Linked DNA regions of Homo sapiens. The protein of the gene in region 1 interacts with the protein of each later gene in a pairwise test. Each region holds a gene or a part of one and is shown on either strand. Other genes may lie near its edges.

What was found. Proteins that work in one complex are often made in the same cells at the same time.
Region 2: the proteins of MFF (region 1) and TEX264 interact in binary tests that used the Homo sapiens proteins (3 or more experiments, as listed by UniProt).

Annotation. Positions count from the first base shown.
Region 1 is NC_000002.12:227,342,251-227,345,750, reverse strand, and holds part of MFF (mitochondrial fission factor), read right to left. Parts: intron 3,007-3,500; coding exon of another isoform or gene 2,932-3,006; intron 1-2,931. UniProt on the Homo sapiens protein: Plays a role in mitochondrial and peroxisomal fission. Promotes the recruitment and association of the fission mediator dynamin-related protein 1 (DNM1L) to the mitochondrial surface.
Region 2 is NC_000003.12:51,695,252-51,698,751, reverse strand, and holds part of TEX264 (testis-expressed protein 264), read right to left. Parts: intron 1-3,500. UniProt on the Homo sapiens protein: Major reticulophagy (also called ER-phagy) receptor that acts independently of other candidate reticulophagy receptors to remodel subdomains of the endoplasmic reticulum into autophagosomes upon nutrient stress, which then fuse with lysosomes for endoplasmic reticulum turnover.

The DNA.
Region 1 (3,500 bases):
GTAATTGGCAAAACCCATACCAGGCATTCCAGAAGGGTAAAAACAAATAAACAAACAAACAAACAAATAAAAAAAACATCCTATTTGTGAAACAAAACTATATGTTAGTCTTACACTCAGAATTCTCTTTAGGCAGCACTGGGAAAACCTGAAGCTCTTACTGCTTGTGAGAATTAAAAAATGGTCAGTTCTACATCAACATAAACAAACAATCCATCTTACACTCTTCTTGATAGAGCAGCCAGCGTTAACTGCCTAAATTCACTCAAGCAAGTTTTAAAGGACAAATCCGTACTTTGCCTTTGCATTTGGGGGTTTAAATTGAACACTTTGTGTATCATTCTGTACTGATAAATAAACCAGCTATATACTAACATATTAAAGGCTACAATAATCAATATTTAGAATTATAATCTTGGGGCAACAGTATGAATGAACTAAACTCAAATCCATGAAAAAAACTTAATGGATGTTGGCCCATTAAAAATTAAAATAAAAGAAGGGTTACTTCCTCTAAGAGAAATCCTTTTGCCAGAAACAAACAATAATGAATTGTTTATTTAAACTGTAAAAGTACAAGTATTTTCTGTCCATATATAGGAAATGAGGAGGTCATCTTATAAAATAGTCAAACATAAACTTACTTCAGACTAACTGCAAAGAGTTCCTAAGATGGAATGCAGAAGGTTGGATTCTAAAACAATCTATAAGATCTCTCTCAATTCTAAGATTTTACGATCACATGAAATTGGAATACAATGAGAAAAAACCTTACATGATCCTCAGTTATAATTTAACATGAAAAATACTTATGTAGAAAGATAAAAGATGAAATTAAGTTTTTATCAATACTAGTAAAGATATTTATTTCCTCAAAAACCAGCATCAAAAACATAACTTGAGGTTCTAGTTGTTTCTCAAAAGAAATTAACATTTCAAAGATTAGTAAAAAAATTAGCTTTTCATTCATGTGTATGGCAATCCTCCATAAACAAAAAACGAAATCGGGAGTATTTTTTTTTTTTAATTGATGACTACTTTTGCCAGTGTTGTATAGATTAAATGTCCTTGTTTGGTAACATTTAATTCCATCCACAGATGAAATAAATCACCATTAAGACTGCCAAAACTACATTAGTAATTAGAGGCAATAAATAATTTAGCAATTGTCTTTCCTTTTTAAAACTTTAAGCAGTCTTGTTGGTATTTTTTACAAATAAATGTAAAAACAAAAAAGAATAAGCTCCATTTTAGCAATCAGTTTGACAGGAGCTAAAATGTACTCCACAGCTATCAACTGTGGAGGGAAACAGCGCTTTCATCTCCGTCCACTCATGGACCCAACCAAGGTTTAATGACTTCCTGTTTCTGTAGTTTTGACAAGTGAACTATTGTGGAAAATAAAAAAGTAAACATACTGCAAAGGCACTGAGAAGATTAAGTAAATGGCATTATATATATATTAGTAATTTAATAAAAATGCAATTTGATAAACTGATTCCAGTGATATTATAAAATAGCAAAGTCTCAACATTACCTTTTTAAAAGAAAAGATTAGAAAATTTTGAAGAAAGCACTGATGTTTACCATGCTTCATTAGTAATAGCTCTACCTCATGCTTACATGAAATCTTATCACATAAGAGTTACATAAACAACACCAGGGCTGGGCACAGTGGCTCATGCCTATAATCCCAGCACTTTGGGAGGCCAAGGTGGGCAGAGCACTTGAGGTCAGGAGTTCAAGACCAGCCTGGCCAATATGATGAAACCCTGTCTCTACTAAAAATACAAAAGTTAGCCGGGCATGGTGGCATGTGCCTGCAGTCTCAACTACTTGGGAGACTGGGGCAGGAGAATCGCTTGAACCCGGGAGGTGGAGGTTGCAGTGAACTGAGATCACGCCATTGCACTCCAGCCTGGAAGTCACAGTGAGACTCCGTCTCAAAAGAAAAAAACAAAACAACCAAAAAAACACCAGCCAATTGTCAGAATTAAAATTTAAATAAAAATTTACTTGGCATAACTATATCATTATTAAAAGTAAGTTCAAAATCAAGTACCTCTTTGAGTTTTCATAGGAATAATGTTTCCCAACCTGTGAATTTAACCTCTTCGGTGAGGTATCACTCTTCCAAAAAATAGGGTAAAACAATAAAGAGAAAAAATTTTCACTAAAACACAAATATATTAATTTCTCTTGGAATTGTAAATACAGAGGAAATTTTAATATATTGCCACTATCTATGGCAACTGAATAGTTCCTGGAAGCATAATAATAGAACCAGAATAAGAGGAAAACTGTTGGCTTTCGGTGCAGTTTCTTCTGTTGCTTAAGAAGTGTATTAGCTATTGAATACCTGTATTATATACCAAAACGTTGTGCTCCATGAGTGAGTCATTCTCATACCTTATTTTGTCACATGGAAAGAGTGGGTTTAATAATAGCAAAAAAGTGCTTCCAAGCATCGTTTTCATCTATGGGATTATAAAATAAATGACAAACCACACTTATGCTCCATTCTCCTTCAGAAACAAGATAGAAGAAGAAAAGACAGTGCGCTGAAATTAAAAAAAAAAAAATTGGGATCACTGCACCAGGTGACGTTGAATCTGTTGAGAACTATTATACCAACCAAAGCAAAATAAACAAAAAAGGATGCTTGGTCCTTATGTGCATATTATATTTCAGGTTCCTTTCACCAACACATGCAAAATCATATACAACTTCCTTAGATGGTCTAGTTTTTTTTTTTCCTTAATAAAGCATATAATGACAGTTTGAGAAATCCTGAAACAGAGGTACTAAAAAGCCAAACAGGAAGATAATTAGGATAGCATACGTCAATTACCTGGTGAATAGATTAGTATTAACATAATCCTTCAAAATCAAAACAACTACTTGTCAAAAGCAGAGCAGATAAAATCTTACGTGTACTCCGGTGCAGAAATCGGTGCCTGGAACCTTGAAATTTTATTTCTTGGGGCAGAATCTGATCTGTGCCACCTTAAATAATAATTATGCTTCTTTTACATATTCAGCTTTTATAACACAAAGAAAAAGCTAGATCTGATTTTACTGTTTAGAATTCACTTTTGCGCTAATAGCTGACCACAATCTTATTGCCTCTTCGAAGTAATTAAGAAAACAAAGGCTAGTGCTCCTGCTCTCATACCCGTTCGCACTTTTATTCTTAAAGCCATGGAATAAAATAAAGTGGAGACAGGCAAAGTTTCATGCACTATGACGCACAACAATTTCATGTTACAAAGAAAACACTAAAGTAGGTAAAGATAGTAAGAGTTTAATAATTATTTTAATAGAGGTATTATATCAATTGTTTTTTCCTCACTACGTTAACAACACTGAATAATATGTTCATTATACAAAATTCTAAAGTTAGTAAGATGTAGATTCTTAAAGATAAATTGTAAATTATAAAATTAACAACAGTAGGAAAAGAAAGGGCAAAGTTACATTATTAACAAAATACATACATA
Region 2 (3,500 bases), on another chromosome or scaffold:
ACATGTAAACTCAGGTTTTAGCTGATGGGGAAGAGGGAGACCCTGGACTGGAAGGTCAGGTAGGACAAGTAGATCTAGCACAGGACATTACCCAGTGGGCTGATGTACCACCTTTTGGGCCCCAAGTTCCAAAAGGCACTCCACCTCCCTCTGCCTAGACACAGAATCCAGTGCTCCCCATCCCCCAATGAGTATGGAGGGGCACAGACATGCCAGAGCCACCCTGAGGCAGGCAGGGACAGCCAGAACAGGGGTCAAGTTGCCTCTTACTCAGAGCCTGCCCCGCCACCTTTCCTGCGAAGGAGCACAAATACCCACTATGATGACTGCAAGGCCCCTGCCCTGTCACTGCTCACCCGCCAATCTTCACAACACGACTATTTATAGCATTCGCCCCGCTCTCACCATGAGCTCTGAAATGAGCCTTCCACTTAGCAGTAATGAGAGACTTATTGCCTGGCAAGGAGAAGCCACTCCAAGACTCCACTTGTCCACCTGCCTGGCCAACCCTAGGGTTGAGGAACCTCCTTCAACTAAAGCAAGCTAGCAAAGAAGGGTTAAAAGCAAGCCCACGGATGATAAAGGGAAAGAGGAGTGAGCCTGAAAGGTTTACCTAGCTAGGACCCTCAGCAGCCAGCTGAAGGGAGGGTGCATCTAGGAGGCCACGCGGGAGGTGGATGGCCTGTCCCAGGTCTGGCTGTGGCTCAGCCTCTGACTCCATGGGTGATCCAGGCAAAGCCTTCCATCCTAAGTCTCCATGTGCTCAACAGCAAAGTAGAACACCCTAGCCCTGATGCTTCCAAGGTCGGTGAAGGAAAGTCATTATTTTTTAATAGTTGGAGTCAAATCTTCTTTGCCAACCTGGGTGCCCTCGGGGCTTCCTCCATCTCAAGAGTCCATGCCCCTGACACGTCCCATTTCTAAACACACAGATGGCTGTCTTTGCTTCTCTACCCACTCACATACCCACTCCAGCCTTGGTCTCCAGGAGGAGGCTAAACAAGATCACAGTGTCAGGAAGCAGGAGCTGTCAGGCTCTGGGGCCCCTCCAATGCCAGCACTTAGAGGCAGGCATCTGCCAAACCTGAACCCAACTCAGCAAACTGGTCCAGGTCACTGAGGCCAGGGGCAGGGAGGCCCCTGAAGAAGGTCCAGGTCCTTCCCCAGTAGCTAGATGAAAGAAAAGGATCCCTGAATCTAGTCAGGGCATGGCCTTCACCAACATCCTCACACTCTGGACAAAGGACCCAAAGGGTAGTAGCTGAGTGGCCATCACAAGAGCAGCAGACATTTGGCTTTTGGGGGAAGATCCCAGAGGACAGAGCCTGTGTCCACCCAGAGATTCCAGGGACAATGGGGACCCTAGCCCAACCCCTCTCAACACTCAAGCCACCTCCCTAGCTTCCCTTCTGGAGGAACTTGGCCATAACAAGATAATAAGAGGGAGTACTGCTCTTTCCACCCTCTCCCCTAGGCTGGGCAGCACCAGGCTGCCACCCTGTGCCACCTGTTCTGCCAGCCCCCTCGTTGGCAGGCGGGAGGCAGCTCTGCGGCTGTTCTGCGCATCTGCTTCCTCCGGAGAGCCCGGCTCTGAAGTTGCCTGGCTGTGGACAGCCCCGTTGCCATGGAAACTGCATCCTCCATCCTTGCCGTCGCCTTCATCTCAAAGCCATCAGGGAGAACAGAGGATCAAGGGAGACAGAGGATGGAGAGAAAACTGTGGCCCTGCGACACAGCCCTTCCTTCTCTGCCCAGCTCTCCCTCCTCACAGCATCTCACACAGGGAGCACCAGGTCCCAGAGCCTGCTCCCAGACCCCTGGAGGGGCAGCCTCAGGCCCAAAACTAGCCTGGTCCTACCTGCTGTTACCTGGGGGCCCTGGTCCTCCCTACTGGAGGGAGGCATGGAGCTAATTAAAATGCCATTGACTGTTCAGCCCCAAATCATTATAGCACATGCACCAGGTCCTACCAAAATTCAGACTTGGGCAGAGAAGGGACAGGAAGAAGGCAAAGGAGCAAACTTCTAAGCCAGGCCCACAGGCAGAGAAGGGGCTTGTAGTTGCCCCCTGGCCCTTCCTGGGAGACTGCTCTCCCTTGCATGCTCTGCCCACTGAGCAAGAATGACTCTAGTGGGGGCTGGGGATGGAAGGTGAGGGGCAGGACAAGCTATATGCTCTGTCCCTGAGTGATCAGGCAGAGAGGACAAGCCCTTTCCCTCCCAGCCAGGTGCAACCTCGGAGGGAAGACAGGGTGACCATGGGCTGGCTCTCAGGTCCTTGCTGCACAGTAGGAGCCATGGCCCGGGCAATATGTCAATGAGCCAGTAAATATTGGAAAATCATTGGAGGAAGGCGAGGCCAGCTGCCTCTCCCTCAGTTAGCCCCAGGGAGCCCTTGGAGAGCAGACTGCCAGTGGCCAAGGACACTAGCTCAAGGTCACACTGGGCTGGTCCCACTGGTGAAGAGCCTGGGTGGGCCTGGGGTCCTCCTAGCCCTGGCACATCCCCTTCCACAGCCCAGACAGCCAGCAGTGTGTGGAAGCATTGCCAGGACATGAGAACGTGCTCTGCCACTGACACCACTGGCCATCTAACAAACCCACAGCCCAGAGCAGCTCACTCCCACACACAGACCCAAGGAGACTATAAAGCCTCTTTCCAAGGTGGGAGAGTTGCAGATGTTCACATTCCTCTCCACCTAACAGGCAAAAGTCAGTGAACCATGCCAAGGTGCCCCCAGGGTCTGCCAGAAACTGGATTCAGAGTTCCAGTCCCTCAGACACACCTCCGGGCCTTCCCTCCCACCTGGGTCTTCCACATGCAGAAACAAGATGGGGACTTGGGACACCACCCATGATGCAGGAATTTCTAAGAGACCCCAGACACCAGCACTTCCCCACCACCACCCCACCCTGCACCAACACCTGCTTACTCACTCAGGAGTGTTGGCAAAAAAGGGAAGGAGCAGCTCACCCACCTCACACAGGCTGCCACAGTGCCACTGCGTCAGCTACCTTGGGGACACACCACACACTCCCACCTCACTTCAGCCTGAGTTCATCTCCTGGGCAGGGTGCAGGCATTTACCCCATTCAGCTCAGGGCTCCCACAACAGGGCAAGACTGATACACCAGGCCAAGCTTTCCCCCACGGGACCCACAGTGCCTCCCCAGCAGGTCTTTCTGAATTATGGGAGAGGAAGAAAAGAGGTAAGAGAGAGGACCTGGACCTGAACTATCCTCATTTAGTGCTTTGTATTCAGGACATCACCCTGTGCCCTGGCTTCAGCTAGGGATTGGGAGCAAATAGAAGACAGAAGAGGTCAGGCCCAGGACGAAGGCTGATGATGGGTCCCACTCCCAGGCTACCCAGAGGCTGGAGGTTTGCTTAGAACTAGGTGGCTGCAAATGCCCAAAAGAAGGAGGCAATGTGTGGGCCAAGGACGGGTCACATCTCCTACATAAGCTCTAGGCCCAGCAAGGGATGAGGTCTGGCTGAGGG